4 linked regions of the Homo sapiens genome follow. The protein of the gene in region 1 interacts with the protein of each later gene in a biochemical or structural test. Each region holds a gene or a part of one and is shown in the gene's direction. Other genes may lie near its edges.

Region 1 (3,500 bases):
CTTTGCCCTTGTATCTGCTCATCCTCCTCTCTCCCCTCTCCAGGAGAGACGTTTCAGAGCCCTTGCCTCCTTCACCATGCCGGTTGCCGCCACCAACTCTGAAACTGGTAAGAAGGGGGTGAGGATGTTAGCTTATTTCAGTGGTTCAGAGGGTGCCAGGCGAGGACTTAGGGGTGGGCACTTGCACAGCTCCAGATAAGAACCAACTGGCTCCACTGCTGTCCACCCTACCACTCAGCCATTCCTTCTGGCAGCTGCTGTGGCCATCTCCTCTGTGTGGGTTCCTGTGCTGGAACGGAGAAGAGAAAGAATAAGACCCATACCTGCTCCAGTGTAGGGCTGGAGCACAACTCACCTCCGTGGAGGGCAGGGGATGCATGCTCCAGAGGTGACCCGTACTATTGCTGGAGGGCAGTGGCATAGGACCAGGCCTTCAGGAGGTGGCCCCGGAGCTGGGCCTTGGAGAATGGCTTGGGGGTGGAGGGATTACAGCAGCACAGCCTGGGGCTGAGAAGTCCATAATCGCTGCCCACTAGGCCAGCATGTGCCAGAGGTGGACAGGGGGTACTGGGGACCAGGAAGCTGTGAGTGAAGGAACAAGAATACCAGGTTAGGATACCTGGACGTGGCTCTGTAGGAGGCATTAGGACAAGGGAGTGGGCCACTCAGACAAACTAGCAAAGCCTCAGTGGCAAACTGCTTAACCTCTTGGAGCTCGCATTTCTTCTTCTGTAAAGAGGCTGCTGTGAGACGCAAAGGCTGTAATGGGAGAGCACATTACTTTTAGGAATAGTCATAATTATTATGCTGCTGTTGCTGCCGCTGCCACCAAGTTGTTGTTGTTGTTTTTGAGACAAGTTCTGGCTCTTTAGCCTAGGCTGGAGTGCAGTGGCGCAAGCTTGGCTCACTGCAACCTCTGCCTACCAGCCTCAAGTCATTCTCCCACCTCAGCCTCCCAAGTAGCTGGGACTACAGGTGTGCACCACCATGCCCAGCTAATTTTTGTATTTTTCGTAAAGACAAAAATGTTGCCCATGCTGGTCTCAAACTCCTGAGCTCAAGTACTCCACCCGCCTCGACCTCCCAAACTACTGGGATTACAGGTGTGAACCACTGTGCCTGGCCTGAGTTGTTATTTTGGCATTAACCCTGTGTCCTTGAAACAGTCACCTCCTTTTGAAGACCTGAGATTTCCCTAAGATGAGATGATGGGACAAGATCAGTGTTCTTAACTTTTTTCTTTTTCTTTTTTTTTTTTTTTGAGATGGAGTCTCCCTCTGTTGCCCAGGCTGGAGGGCAGTGGTGGGATCTCGGCTCACTGCAACCTTCACCTCCCAGGTTCAAGTGATTCTCCTGCCTCAGCCTCCCAAGTAGCTGGGATTACAGGCACCTGCTATCATGCCCAGCTAATTTTTGTATTTTTGTAGAGACTGGGTTTCACCATGTTGGCCAGGCTGTCCTGACCTCAGGTGATCCACCTGCCTTGGCCTCCCAAAGTGCTGGGATTACAGGCATGAGCCACCACACCTGGCCTGTTCTTAATTTTATTGGTCCTGAGTCACTTAGAATCTGGTGACAGCAGTGAGCCCTCATCGTAGACATATACATCCATGCACAAAAGGTATATTCTACTCTAGGGGATCATGGATTCCCGTAGTGCACGCAGGACCCCAGAAGGTTAAGTTCCCTGTGCTAGAGGCCCTCTGAGGCCCGGGCAGCTGGGAACTGCTATGGTTCTGCTCTGAGTTGTCTGAACTTCCCCCTGCCTGGATGCCTCCCTCCCATGCAGCTCCTTCCCTTGCTCTAGGCCCCACTACTGCCTCTGCCAGAGGTTCCAGGGCTGCCACTTTGGGTAGAATGATTCCTCTGTGCCTCCTCTCCGAGAAAGTGAAGGGAGTGAGCCAGGGCCTAAACTGTGGTACACTTGTCCAGGAAAGGCCTCTTCTCCTTGCAGTGGAGGGATGGCACCAATGTCCCCAGCTTCTGCAGCATCAGAGGGCTCAGTCCCCCATCTCCTGTCCAGCCTGCTGGGCTCCCTGGGGTCTCCCTGCCTCTTTCAGCCTGCCTAGGCCCCACTGTAAGCTGCTTAGGCATTAATTAAACCCACCCCTGAGCCTGTGCTTAATGGCCTCTCCAGCCGGGACTGCCCAGTAAACCCACCAATAGTGCCTGACTGGGGCGTAGGAGGAGGAGCAAGCCCAGCAATTTGGCTTCGTTGTTGCAGACCACTTGATGGGGGCGTGGTGGGGGAGGATGGGGGACAGGGAGTGGAGCCTTGGGGTGTGGCGGTGGGTTCTGCTTCCTCAAAGGACTCCTGGGGCTCCTGCTCCCCTTCATGTTGTTCGAGGGGCTGCTCCTGGCTTCTCATATTCAAAGGAAGAAGTACAAAGTGTTTTTCTTCCTTCAGGCAGCCTCTGTCCTATCCTGAGCTACATTAGCTCCCAGCTTCAAAAATCTAATGGTGGATTCTGCCCCTTATTATCTGGTGGTCATTATACTTCCCACAGGATAGAGAGACAGCTGTGTCCCTGCCTCTGAGTTCAGGCTCCCCTTCCCTCCTCCTCCCCTGGGAGATCCCTGCCTTGGACTCTGCAAAGGGCAAAGCTAATAAGATCCTTTTTCCGCCCTTCCCCATGGGTCAGTATGGTTGAAGGGAGGGAAAGGGTATGGGTGTATTCCTCTTGCAGGGAGACCCCATATCTACTTTGGGTAGAGTCAGGGGCCCTTTTCCTGAGACTTGGGAGATAAATGGACAGTGGCACTGGGCTGAGAACTTAGAGATCCTGAACCTGGCATCTCCTGACCTGCAGCCTTGCTCCCTCTTCCCCTGTCACCAGATTCCCTCCCTTTTTTGGATCAAGGCTGGGATATGTGGCTGCTTTCAGGTGGAGCTGTCCCTTTAAATCTCTCCTCCATCCCTGGGTTACTGTCCTGGTGTGTAATTCTACTGTCATGGCAACCAGGGGTGCAATGCGACCTGGTGCCACTCCTCAGGGAATGTCTGAGTGGAGGCTGCAGTACCCTGATGGTGGCCTCTTGGGCACAAGATCTCAGAGGAATGGGGTCACCGGAGCGGAGCTGAGTCCTTCCCTTCTGCCCACACTTTTCCCTGTGTGCAAATGTGCCCTCATTTTTCCTTTCTGGGGAACTGAGTTCCAAGATGCCTGACTTGCTTCCTGGGCATCATCCCCTTCATTAAGAGGAAGAACTCATGGGAGATGGGGGAGGGGAAGAAGCTGCTGTGAGGCGAGGGGTAAGCAGGGCTGGGGCACCATCCCTACCCACAGCGATGCCACCTCCCCCACGTACCCTGCCTCCCAGTGGCTGACCAAGGGTGGGTAGGGGGAGGCGTCTGAGGCTTGAGGTATTTGCCCCATGCCCAAGTGAGGCTGCCTCCCGGTGGAGGGCTGAGTCGTTCTTGGGGACTTCCTTAGACTGAGGGACTATTGTAAAGGAAACAGGGCCTGGAGAGGGGACTGAGAGCAGAGGTCAGAGGGCAT
Region 2 (4,248 bases), on another chromosome or scaffold:
GATCCCTTCCCGACACATCCAGGAGCCTTGGTTCTCTCCTTCCTCCAACTCTCTGAGAGTGAATGCTGCTGAGAACCACTGTGGTTTTAAAATACTCCGTGCAATACAAAGAACTCTCAGATGCATCCTGTGGTTTGAGAGCACCTTTATGTGTCATTCTCATCATTAACCTCAATGAATGCATACTAATGATCTAATATGCACCAGAAGCTACACAAAAACACTTTGTAGTTGTTAGCCAATTCATTTTGGCTACAGCCAGCCAGAAAAGAGGAAACTGAGGCACAGAGAAGCAAATGTCAACCCTACCTGGAAGTGTCAGTCTGAAAAGATCAGTTGAGTCTTCCTCTACCAGACCCCAACTTGTCTGGTCTCGTGAAGAAAGACAGAAATGGATGGAAAACCATTCTTATCACCTTCTTGCTGGAGAGTTAGGGAAGAGTCAGCTGGTCCCTAACAACAAACTTTGCCCTACTCCAGTACTGCCAAAGGGGTCTTTGTTGTAACATGGCCTACAAGGAGAGGACATCTTTCTGGGAAAGCACCTAGAATGTGGCTGGCACATATTCAATGCCCAGTAAATGTAGCTATTATTTTTTCAATCAACACTCTTACATACCCCTTTTCCACTCACCCTCTTCTCCCTTTTTTTGGTCACCCAATAAGCAGAAATTCCAGATGCATCCTTCGGGGTGGTTGGGAGCAAAGGATCCCCAGGGTGCACTGTGCCCTGGGCTGAGGTATCTCTGAGGTGCTTCCATCTTCTGGGTCCTTCCTCACTGGGGTTGTTGCCTCAGGCTCTCAGGACTCCCCTGGAAATCTTCTGATGGGAAAGGCATTGATTGACTTGCCACCCTTTCTCTACCATCCCTTTGCAATTCTGGGAGAGTTGCAGCCCCGCCCTCCCAGGCTTGCAAAGGTAGACGGAGAATTATATTGGAATTTAAATCGGAAGCTCTCAAGGCATCTCAAAAATACTTTCTCTATTTTTTTTTTCCTGTAGATATTGGAGAGGTTGGCAAACGGGTCTTCCTGAAGACAGAAGAATGTATGATTTAATGTTTTCTTTAGATTTCTGTATGAGTGGATGCACAGTGCTCCGTATTGTGTGGTGGGGCGGGGTGTGTCTTCTTATTGATGAAATACACTGCGCAGGTCAACTCGGTAAATTGAAATGAGAAGAGCCGACTGCGGGGGTGGAGGGGGTGTGGTATTAGGGTGCCGGCGCTTGTGGAGGGGGGCGCGAATGTGAACGTGTGAAAGCGAGAGGCGTGCCAGGAGAGCGCGGGAAAGCTTACTGGTGAGGCAAGTGTGCGTCTATTTCCATGGCGCCCTGGCTCGCGGCAGCCCCTGGCTGGGCGAGGGGTGTGATGTGGGAGTGGGGTGGGAGGGGGCAGCAGGCGGGGCCTGCCACGTCACTTGGAGAGTGTGTGTTGGGAAGGAAGGGCAGAGCGGAGAGCCGAGCCGCTGCAGCTGCGGCGGCGGCAGCGAAGCCTTGAGCCGTGGGGAGGTGGGTCCCCGCGCTCGGGCGCCGGGGCAGCCCCGGGCCCTCTGCGAGGCCTGCGGCGCGGCTCCTAGGGAGGAGGTGGCGGCTGTGGCGGCCGGAACCGCGACCTTGGCCGGACCCAGCCCCGCGGTGGACGCAGGGCGGAGGCCGAGCCCCGCCAGGAGTCTTTGCCGAGCCGGAGGGAGGCGCATCTGGCGCTTCGGTACCAGCGGCAGCCGGGGGTCCGGAGCGGCTGGAGGAGCGCAGTGGGAACTGGGAAGAGCTAGCCCGGCTGGAGGGCGGACCTCTGCGTCCGGGAGCCGGGTCTCAGGCACCGCTGGGGGCGAAGCCACGCGTCTTTTCGGGCAGCCAATTTCACACGCGCCTGTGTGCGGTTCCGGGCATCCCAGTAAGCTCTAGCACCCGGGCGCGGGTAACGGGAAGCGCAGAACCAAATCCCCAGCGCCCAGGTCACCTCCCCAGACCCAGCCTTGCAGGGACCAGGGCTTTAGGGCTCACGGACCCAACGGCCAGGTCAGACCGCGAACCGGGAGGAGCGCGGGCCCCACCCTAAAGAGGGCGCAGCCGGGAGCTGGGGAGCGGGTGCCGCGCTCCAGAGATTGTGTCGTGGGCGCCGTCCTAGTGGCGGGGAGCGCACCTCCGAGGGGGCATGAGATCGGAGAAATCCCTTACGCTGGCGGCGCCGGGGGAGGTCCGTGGGCCGGAGGGAGAGCAACAGGATGCGGGAGACTTCCCGGAGGCCGGCGGGGGCGGGGGCTGCTGTAGTAGCGAGCGGCTGGTGATCAATATCTCCGGGCTGCGCTTTGAGACACAATTGCGCACCCTGTCGCTGTTTCCGGACACGCTGCTCGGAGACCCTGGCCGGCGAGTCCGCTTCTTCGACCCCCTGAGGAACGAGTACTTCTTCGACCGCAACCGGCCCAGCTTCGACGCCATCCTCTACTACTACCAGTCTGGGGGCCGCCTGCGGAGGCCGGTCAACGTGCCCCTGGACATTTTCCTGGAGGAGATCCGCTTCTACCAGCTGGGGGACGAGGCCCTGGCGGCCTTCCGGGAGGACGAGGGCTGCCTGCCCGAAGGTGGCGAGGACGAGAAGCCGCTGCCCTCCCAGCCCTTCCAGCGCCAGGTGTGGCTGCTCTTTGAGTACCCAGAGAGCTCTGGGCCGGCCAGGGGCATCGCCATCGTCTCCGTGTTGGTCATTCTCATCTCCATAGTCATCTTTTGCCTGGAGACCTTACCCCAGTTCCGTGTAGATGGTCGAGGTGGAAACAATGGTGGTGTGAGTCGAGTCTCCCCAGTTTCCAGGGGGAGTCAGGAGGAAGAGGAGGATGAAGACGATTCCTACACATTTCATCATGGCATCACCCCTGGGGAAATGGGGACCGGGGGCTCCTCCTCACTCAGTACTCTTGGGGGCTCCTTCTTTACAGACCCCTTCTTTCTGGTGGAGACGCTGTGCATTGTCTGGTTCACTTTTGAGCTCCTGGTGCGCTTCTCCGCCTGCCCTAGCAAGCCGGCCTTCTTCCGGAACATCATGAACATCATTGACTTGGTGGCTATCTTCCCCTACTTCATCACCCTGGGCACTGAGCTGGTGCAGCAGCAGGAGCAGCAACCAGCCAGTGGAGGAGGCGGCCAGAATGGGCAGCAGGCCATGTCCCTGGCCATCCTCCGAGTCATCCGCCTGGTCCGGGTGTTCCGCATCTTCAAGCTCTCCCGCCACTCCAAGGGGCTGCAGATCCTGGGCAAGACCTTGCAGGCCTCCATGAGGGAGCTGGGGCTGCTCATCTTCTTCCTCTTCATCGGGGTCATCCTCTTCTCCAGTGCCGTCTACTTCGCAGAGGCTGACGATGACGATTCGCTTTTTCCCAGCATCCCGGATGCCTTCTGGTGGGCAGTGGTTACAATGACCACGGTAGGTTACGGGGACATGTACCCCATGACTGTGGGGGGAAAGATCGTGGGCTCGCTGTGTGCCATCGCTGGGGTCCTCACCATTGCCCTGCCTGTGCCCGTCATCGTCTCCAACTTCAACTACTTCTACCACCGGGAGACGGAGCAGGAGGAGCAAGGCCAGTATACCCACGTCACTTGTGGGCAGCCTGCGCCGGACCTGAGGGCAACTGACAACGGACTTGGCAAGCCTGACTTCCCCGAGGCTAACCGGGAACGGAGACCCAGCTACCTTCCTACACCACATCGGGCCTATGCAGAGAAAAGAATGCTCACGGAGGTCTGACCCATGCAGGCAGGGCCTGCAGGAGGGGAGCACTGAGCTAACAGTCTCTTAGGCTTCCTTCTCATTTCCACTACTCACTCTAGCTTCAGTTGACTTCTTGACTCTCTCCCCTACACCCACTACCTGGCATCCAGGACCAAATACCTGGACTATCAACCTTGTTGCTTAATCCCTGCAGCATTCAAGGTTAATCCATCTAAGTGACATTTTTGAAATTCCAGCGGTGCCACCCAATCATGCCCAGCTTCTGTCATATGAATGAGATATACATTTATGTCTGACCTTCCCTCAAGACTGATTTTTCATGTCTGGGACTTACAATATCTCAAGGAACAGCAATGTCAACAGGATGGAAACCAGCCCTATCTGAGTCTTCGCTCCCTCCTTAGTGTTCTTTGCTTTGGGTCATGTGCGTTTCCTAGCTTCAGGCTACTTGGTAACTGGAAGAAGCTGGAGGACAGAAGCAGTACTCAACTTGCTGTTATTCCAGTGCCCTGTAACA
Region 3 (3,500 bases), on another chromosome or scaffold:
AGTGATCCGCCCGCTTCGGCCTTCCAAAGTGCTGGGATTACAGGTGTGAGCCACCACGCCCTGCCTCAAACATCCTTCTTTACTAATCAGACTGTACCTGCTCTTTGAGGAAACAGACTGTGCACCAGGTAGTCTTGGGGCTCAGGGAGAGGGTGGTTATGGCTGGGGCTGGCAGTCACCTGTGCTCAGGAGGGACCGGGGGACCGGTCTGGCAGACTTGAGCAGGAGACCAAAAGAATCTGGAACCCTTGATCAGATCAAGGTGGGTCTTACTCTTAGGTCCATTGTTTAGGTCCAGTGTTTGTCACACCGTCACACAGGGCTGTGGCAGTGGGAGAGTGAGGATTGTCAAGTCGGAGAGTTTGTGCCTGTTGTCCTCCTTAGAGATGTCACTTGTGCAATTCTCTGATATCCTTTAGAACGGTGGTGTTGGATGTGGGGACTTCTCAAAGGCTCCTGAATAAAATGTACAATGGGAGATAGTGACTGAGGGGCTGGCTGTTGGGATTGCTGATCAACTTTTCCCCTACATTTTGCAGGGCTGGGGGGACACATTAGGTGCTCATTTAAATGCTGGGTGGAGAGACAGCAGGGTGATTGGATAGACGGAAGGATCAGTGGGTGTGAGAGGAGGTGGATGGATGGATGGAGGGAAGGATGGCTGGATGGATGGTGGGGATGAGAATGGATGGCTGATCAGGCCAATGAACAGACGATGCGTGGCTGCTGGCAGGACAGTGAGTGGACAGGGTGGTTAGATGGAAGGGGAGGTATCTTTCCCTGCTCACTGCTTGTCATCCTTTGCTTTCAGCTTCGGGCAGCAGAGGTGGAGATCAAAGATCTGCAGTCCGAGTTTCAGCTGGAGAAGATCGATTACTTGGCCACCATCCGCCGGCAGGAGCGTGACTCCATGCTCTTGCAGCAGCTCCTGGAGCAGGTGCAGCCCCTGATTCGCAGGGACTGTAACTACAGCAACCTGGAGAAGATTCTGCGTGAGTCCTGCTGGGACGAAGATAACGGCTTCTGGAAGATCCCACATCCCGTCATCACAAAAACCAGCCTCCCAGTAGGTCAGGAGCTTGGCTGGCCCTTGCCCTCCCCTCCCTCCTTCACGGCTTACCATCCTGCAGACTGGCAGGGAGTGTGGGCCTCTCCTTGCAGGCTGTGGGTGTAGAAGACACGTGACCCTGGGTACCTGATGCGTCAGGACTCTGAGAAAGTGGTGTGTTCTGGAGGCAGACAGATGTGGGTTGGAATTCTGGCAGCACCGTTCCCTGTGTGCCCTTTTTGGGACTCGGTGTCTTCATCTGTGAAATGGGGATGAATAACAGCACCTTTCTTAAAGTTGCTGTAAGGTTTGAAATGTGTTAATAGGCCAGGTATGGTGGCTCACGCCTGTAATCCCAGCACTTTGGGAGGCTAAGGCTGGCAGATTGCTTGAGTCCAGGAGTTCGAGACCAGCCTGGCCAACATGGTGAAACCCTGTCTCTAAAAAAAAAAAATAGAAAAATTAGCCAGGCATGGCAGCATGTACCTGTAGTCCCAGCTACTATGGGGGCTGAGGCGAGAGGATCGCTTGAGCCTGGGAAGTCAAGGCTGCAGTGAGCCAAGATCGTGCCACTGCACTCCAGCCTGGGTAACAAAGTGCGACCCTGTCTCAAAACAAACCCCGAAAAAACAAAAACCAGAAATGTGTTAATACACAGAAAACCCTTACAGCAGTGCCTGGCACATAGTGATGCTCGCTGCATGTCATTGTTATCCTAATCAGCATTGTCACTGGTTCATCCTTACGACAGCCCTGAGAAGACAGGTTTTCTACCCATTTCACATAGGAGGACACAATCTCAGAGGGTCCAAAGTCACAGTCACAGCAGTGAGTGGGAGGACCATGGATCAAAACCCACAGTTCAGAGTTTCAGGCCTGGTTCCACTTCCGCTCTTGCTGCTGACCTCCCGTATGGCCTTCCGAAGATCACTGTCCCTCTCTGGGCTTCTTTACAAAGAAGGGGTTGGATCAGATGACCTTGAAAGCCTCCTCACCTCTGATGAGTCTCAGAGTAAAGCCAGACATGCTGTGGCTCTTTCTCCAGCCGTGGACCTGACTCTGCCCATTTGGGGAGCCCGCAGTGCCCCCCAGGAGTCCTCCCTCTTGCTCAGCGTGTTCATCCAGGTCCAACATCTCTGATGTTTATTGACACCATCCCTGCTGAGACCCCAGCCCGCCTCCATTTCCCACATGCTCTGGGATGCAGCAGCCTTCCTGTCTGTCCCCACCCTCGCCTGCTGTCTTGCCTGGAAGCCCCTTGGCTGCTGTCTTGCCTGCAAGCAGATGAGGGTCTTCTCTGGTGCCTGAGCCCCTCCTGCTGTCTGTTTCTTAAAATTATCCCTTGGCTTGGGCTGGGAAGTGTCCTCCCCTGTTTAAGCCTGAGCCAGGCCTGACCCCCACCTCCACCTGTGCCCTCCTCTAGGCCTTGCACCAGGCAGCAGTGACTTCAGCTTTTGTTTTCTCATAGCAGTTTCAACTGGGCCACAGAACAAACCAGCCCGCAAAACCTCTGCAGCAGACAATGGCGAGCCGAACATGGTGAGGACCGCGGGAGAGGGAGTGGGGTGTCGGGGGCTGGGAGGGCTTTGCCCCCAGTGCTGTGGGTCAGTGTTACTGTGGAGAGCTGGTTTTCCACTTTCCTCCCGCCTAAGGATTAAAGAAGGGGCCAAGGCTGGATCCTTTTCATGCCCCTCCATTGGCACCTAGACCCTCAACCCCCTCTGGCCCTCATTCAAAGGTACTCACAGTCATAAATACCAAGGGAAAGTAGATGGTTCGGTGGCCCATCTTGCCGGTGAAGGACAGAGACTTCAGCCTCAAACTCAGAGGACAAGCAGCACATTCTGGTTTCCTGCTGGTAATCCTCAGACCAAGAGGGTCCTCACAGGGTTCATGAAGCAGTAATTGGGATTCCTAAGTCACTTTATTTTCCCGTCTCTCATATTCTGTCTTTTTTTTTTTTTTTCTTTTTCTAAGCTCAGTGGCAAGACCTATCTCCTATATTTTATAGTGCAACAGAAATGCATGTTCTTAAAGCATGGGTGGTGGTGGTTGTTTTTTTTTTTTTTTTTTTTTTTTTTTTTTTTTTTTTTTTGAGATGGAGTCTCGCTCTGTCACCAGGCCGGAGTGCAGTGGTGCGATCTTGGCTCACTGCAACCTCTGCCTCCCAGGTTCAAGCAATTCTCCTGCCTTGGCCTCAGCTGGGACTACAGGCGCGCACCACCATGCCCAGCTAATTTTTGTATTTTTAGTAGAGACAGAGTTTCACCGGGTTGGCCAGGATGGTCTCGATCTCTTGACCTTGTGATCCTCCTGCCTCAGCCTCCCAGAGTGCTGGGATTTCAGGCATGAGCCACCACGCCCGGCCTCTATTTTATTTTATTTTATTTTATTTATTATTATTATTATTATTATTATTATTTCGAGACAGAGTCTCGCTCTGTCGCCCATG
Region 4 (3,500 bases), about 15 Mb from region 1:
CCTTGACATTTTAAACAGTTTAGAGTCAGGCAGCAGTTTTGGTTGTTAGACTGATGATTTTACAGGACCCAGGGCCCTTTCTGTCTGCCAAGTAGTTTATCATCACTTACAAGAGATTATTGTGATTATTCTCTAATATTCAGAGAGGTTGGATGATGGGCTGAAGGTCACACAGCAAGTCAGAGGCAGAGCGGGATTACAACCTGCAGTGTGTGGTTGAGCAGAATAGCTCTCCAGCAGAGGCTGAGGGCCAAATCTGAGCTGTCAGGCCCTTGAAGATAACTGTAGCTGAAATAGTGGAGGCTTAGAGAGGGGAGGGGACTTGCTCAAGGTCACACGGAAGGGGATGTTAGCGGAACTGAGCGCCAGGCGGTGCACCTGGAAGAGCAGCAGGGAACCTGGCGAGGCCGCAGGAGCTCTCCCGCTCGCGTTCCTCCATGGCCCGCGGGATTGCTGCCTTCCGGGGGAGATGGGATCGCAGCGGGAGGCGCCGCGGGGCTGCGGCTGCGCCGGCCCAGCCGCGGGGAAACGCCAAGGGCCGCCCGGCTCCCCGCGCGGCGGCGTGAGGGCTGGCTAATGTCACGTGAGAAGCGTGCAGTCGGCGTGAGGGAGCACACCTGGAGCCAGATAAGCTCCGTGTGACCTGGCAGGGAGTCACCCGGCGCTGCGGAGCTCAGCACAGCCGGCCGGGAGGAGGCTCCCCCTGGAGCACGGGGCCAGGCCAGGTGCTGGCTACCCCTCCGGCCGCTGCTACAACCCTTGGCGAGGGGCAGAGCGCGGGGAGAGAGCCGGGGTCCCGGGGCTGGAGGAAACGGCCGCTCAGGGAGGTCAGAGGCCAAGGGAGAGAGGCCGGCTCTCTCGGGAAAGTATTTCCTTTGTATTTATTTATGAGTGTGGTCTGGGGGTGGGGGTGGGAGGACTGACCTAAGTATCTATCCACCACAGCCAACTCTGGGCACCCTTGTCTTGGGACTCTAACGTTATAGTTTCCATTTCCTGGGTTTTTTTTTTCTTTTGCCAGCTGCTAGGTGACCCATTTAAATGTGTCCCCACTTACAGCCACAAGACACCAGTGAACTCTATTTTAACCAAGTCCCCCAAGCCACTGAAACTTTTTCAAGACATGAAGGCAATCCTTAAACTGACCATTACCCTGTTTGCAGCTTTACTGCTGGTGGATTGCCTACTAGTTTGTCCATTTTTTTTTAGTCTGGAAAAAAGTTGAATCATTAGGTAGAAAGCTAAAGCGTTACTAAAGTGTTACCCTTCTTCTCCCCTACTCTCCAGAGATGACCACTGATAAATTTTTGGATCGAATTTTTCCAGACTGCTGTTTTTTTTGAGAAGGAGTCTCGCTCTGTCACCCAGGCTGGAGTGCAGTGGCGCAATCTTGGCTCACTGCAACCTCCGCCTCCGGGGTTCAAGCAATTCTCTGCCTCAGCCTCCCGAGCAGCTGGGATTACAGGCGCCCGCCACCACGCCCGGCTACTTTTTTGTATTTTTAGTAGAGACAGGGTTTCACCATCTTGGCCAGGCTGGTCTTGAACTCCTGACCTCGTCATCCACCTGCCTCGGCCTCCCAAAGTGCTGGGATTACAGGTGTGAGCCACTGCGCCTGGCCAGACTGCTTTTTAAAAGCTTGTTATATATATTTTAGGCACTATATATGTTTATAGTTTAATATATGTTTTATAAAATATCATCTTATATAAATATTTAAAAAATTTCTGTAGTAGGCCGGACACAGTGGTTCACACCTGTAATCCCAGGACTTTGGGAGGCTGAGATAGGCAGATTGCTTGAGCCCAGGAATTTGAGACCAGGCTGGGCAACATGGCAAGACCCTGTCTCTACAAAAAATACAGAAGTTAGCTGGGTGTGGTGGCGAGTGCCTGTAGTCCCAGCTACTCAGGAGGCTGCGGTGGGAAGGATCGCTTGAGTCCCAGGAGGTTGAGGCTGCAGTGAGCCGAGATCGCACCACACTCTAGCCTGGAGGACACAGTGGGACCCTGTCTCAAAAAAAAAAAAAAAAAAGATGAAATAAAAGTAGAAGAAAAATGATAGATAATTCCACTCCCTGAAGCTCCTAGGTGTAAGCAAATACACATTTACCAGATGAATGTTCTTATAAAAAATTAAAATATAGCCCGAGTGCGGTGGCCCATGCCTATAATCCAGTACTTTGGAGGCCAAGGTGGGTGGACCACTTGAAGCCAGGAGTTCAAGATCAGCCTGACCAACATGGTGAGACCCCATCTCTGTTATTTAAAAAAAAAGAAAAAAAATTAAAATATGGATGAAACACAAGTCTATTTGACCCTTCTAAAATTCCAGTCTCCTCCCCAGAGCATATATTTTTCCTACACATATGCAAATATTGTACACAACGTACATGTAATATATTCATGCACATATATAGATATAGGTTTTTAAATTTTAGCAAAATTATAAACTATCCTGCAACCTATTTTTTCACTTAACAATATAGTATAGAATCTTTCCAGGTCAGTGTATACAAATCTACTTCATTCTTTTTACTTTTAATTATACAACTGCTCAGTTGTATAATTTAGCTTTTTTTTTTGAGACAGAGTCTCGCCCTTTCGCGCAGGCTGGAGTGCTGCAATGGCGTGATCTCGGCTCACTGCAACCTCCGCTTCCTGGATTCAAGCGATTCTCCTGCCTCAGCCTCCTGAGTAGCTGGGATTACAGGTGCGCCACTACGCCGGCAAAGTTTTGTATTTTTAGTGGAGATGGGGTTTCACCATGTTGGCCAGGCTAGTCTCGAACTTCTGACCTCAAGTGATCTGCCTGCCTCAGCCTCCCAAAATGTTGGGATTACAGTTGTGAGCCACCATGCCCAGCATTTTATTTTTTTTTATTTTTTTTATTTTTTGAGACATAATCTCCCTCCACCCAGGCTGGAGCACAGTAGCACGAATCTTGGCTCATGCAGCCTTGACTTCTAGGCTCAAGTGATCCTCCCACCTCAGCCTCCCAAGTAGCTGGTATCACAGGTGTGCACCACTGCCTAGCTACTTTTAAAAAATTTTTTTGTAGAGTCAGAGTCTCACTGTGTTGTCTAGGCTGGTCTCAAACTCCTGGACTCAAGCAGTCCTCCCGCCTTGGCCTCCCAAAGTGCTGGAATTAGAGGCCTGAGCCGCTGCACCTGGCCAGTTTTACTATTCTCTAGTAAGGACTTTTATATTTATAGACTTGCTATTATAAACAATGCTGCAAGGATTAGCCATGTATATTATGTGAATGTACCTATAGATGTCTTATAATGGAATTGCCCAAAGAATATGTACATAAATATTTTCATATGCCAGGTGCAGTGGTGGTGCCTGTAATCCTAGCTACTCAGGAGGCTGAGGCAGGAGGATTGCTTGGGGCCAGGAGTTTGAGACCAGCCTGGACAGAATAGCAAGAACCTGTCTCTAAAACAATTTTTAAAAAGTTAGCCAGTAATGGTGGCGCACACCTGTAGTCACAGCTAC

Evidence for each region. The genes of interacting proteins can lie anywhere in the genome.
Region 2: the proteins of MPP2 (region 1) and KCNA6 interact in a test that uses a peptide from one of them, tested with the Homo sapiens proteins (one large-scale study listed by IntAct).
Region 3: the proteins of MPP2 (region 1) and KIF17 interact in a test that uses a peptide from one of them, tested with the Homo sapiens proteins (one large-scale study listed by IntAct).
Region 4: the proteins of MPP2 (region 1) and MYO18A interact in a test that uses a peptide from one of them, tested with the Homo sapiens proteins (one large-scale study listed by IntAct).

What each region holds. Positions count from the first base shown.
Region 1 is NC_000017.11:43,901,037-43,904,536, reverse strand, and holds part of MPP2 (MAGUK p55 subfamily member 2), read left to right. Parts: intron 1-43; coding exon of another isoform or gene 44-76; coding exon 77-107; intron 108-2,972; exon of another isoform or gene 2,973-3,253; intron 3,254-3,500. UniProt on the Homo sapiens protein: Postsynaptic MAGUK scaffold protein that links CADM1 cell adhesion molecules to core components of the postsynaptic density. In CA1 pyramidal neurons, required for synaptic KCNN2-containing channel function and long-term potentiation expression.
Region 2 is NC_000012.12:4,807,886-4,812,133, forward strand, and holds the start of KCNA6 (potassium voltage-gated channel subfamily A member 6), read left to right. Parts: upstream 1-1,448; 5' UTR 1,449-2,156; coding exon 2,157-3,746; 3' UTR 3,747-4,248. UniProt on the Homo sapiens protein: Voltage-gated potassium channel that mediates transmembrane potassium transport in excitable membranes. Forms tetrameric potassium-selective channels through which potassium ions pass in accordance with their electrochemical gradient.
Region 3 is NC_000001.11:20,669,508-20,673,007, reverse strand, and holds part of KIF17 (kinesin-like protein KIF17), read left to right. Parts: intron 1-811; coding exon 812-1,070; intron 1,071-2,516; coding exon of another isoform or gene 2,517-2,519; coding exon 2,520-2,587; intron 2,588-3,500. UniProt on the Homo sapiens protein: Dendrite-specific motor protein which, in association with the Apba1-containing complex (LIN-10-LIN-2-LIN-7 complex), transports vesicles containing N-methyl-D-aspartate (NMDA) receptor subunit NR2B along microtubules.
Region 4 is NC_000017.11:29,173,899-29,177,398, reverse strand, and holds part of MYO18A (unconventional myosin-XVIIIa), read left to right. Parts: intron 1-625; exon of another isoform or gene 626-827; intron 828-3,500.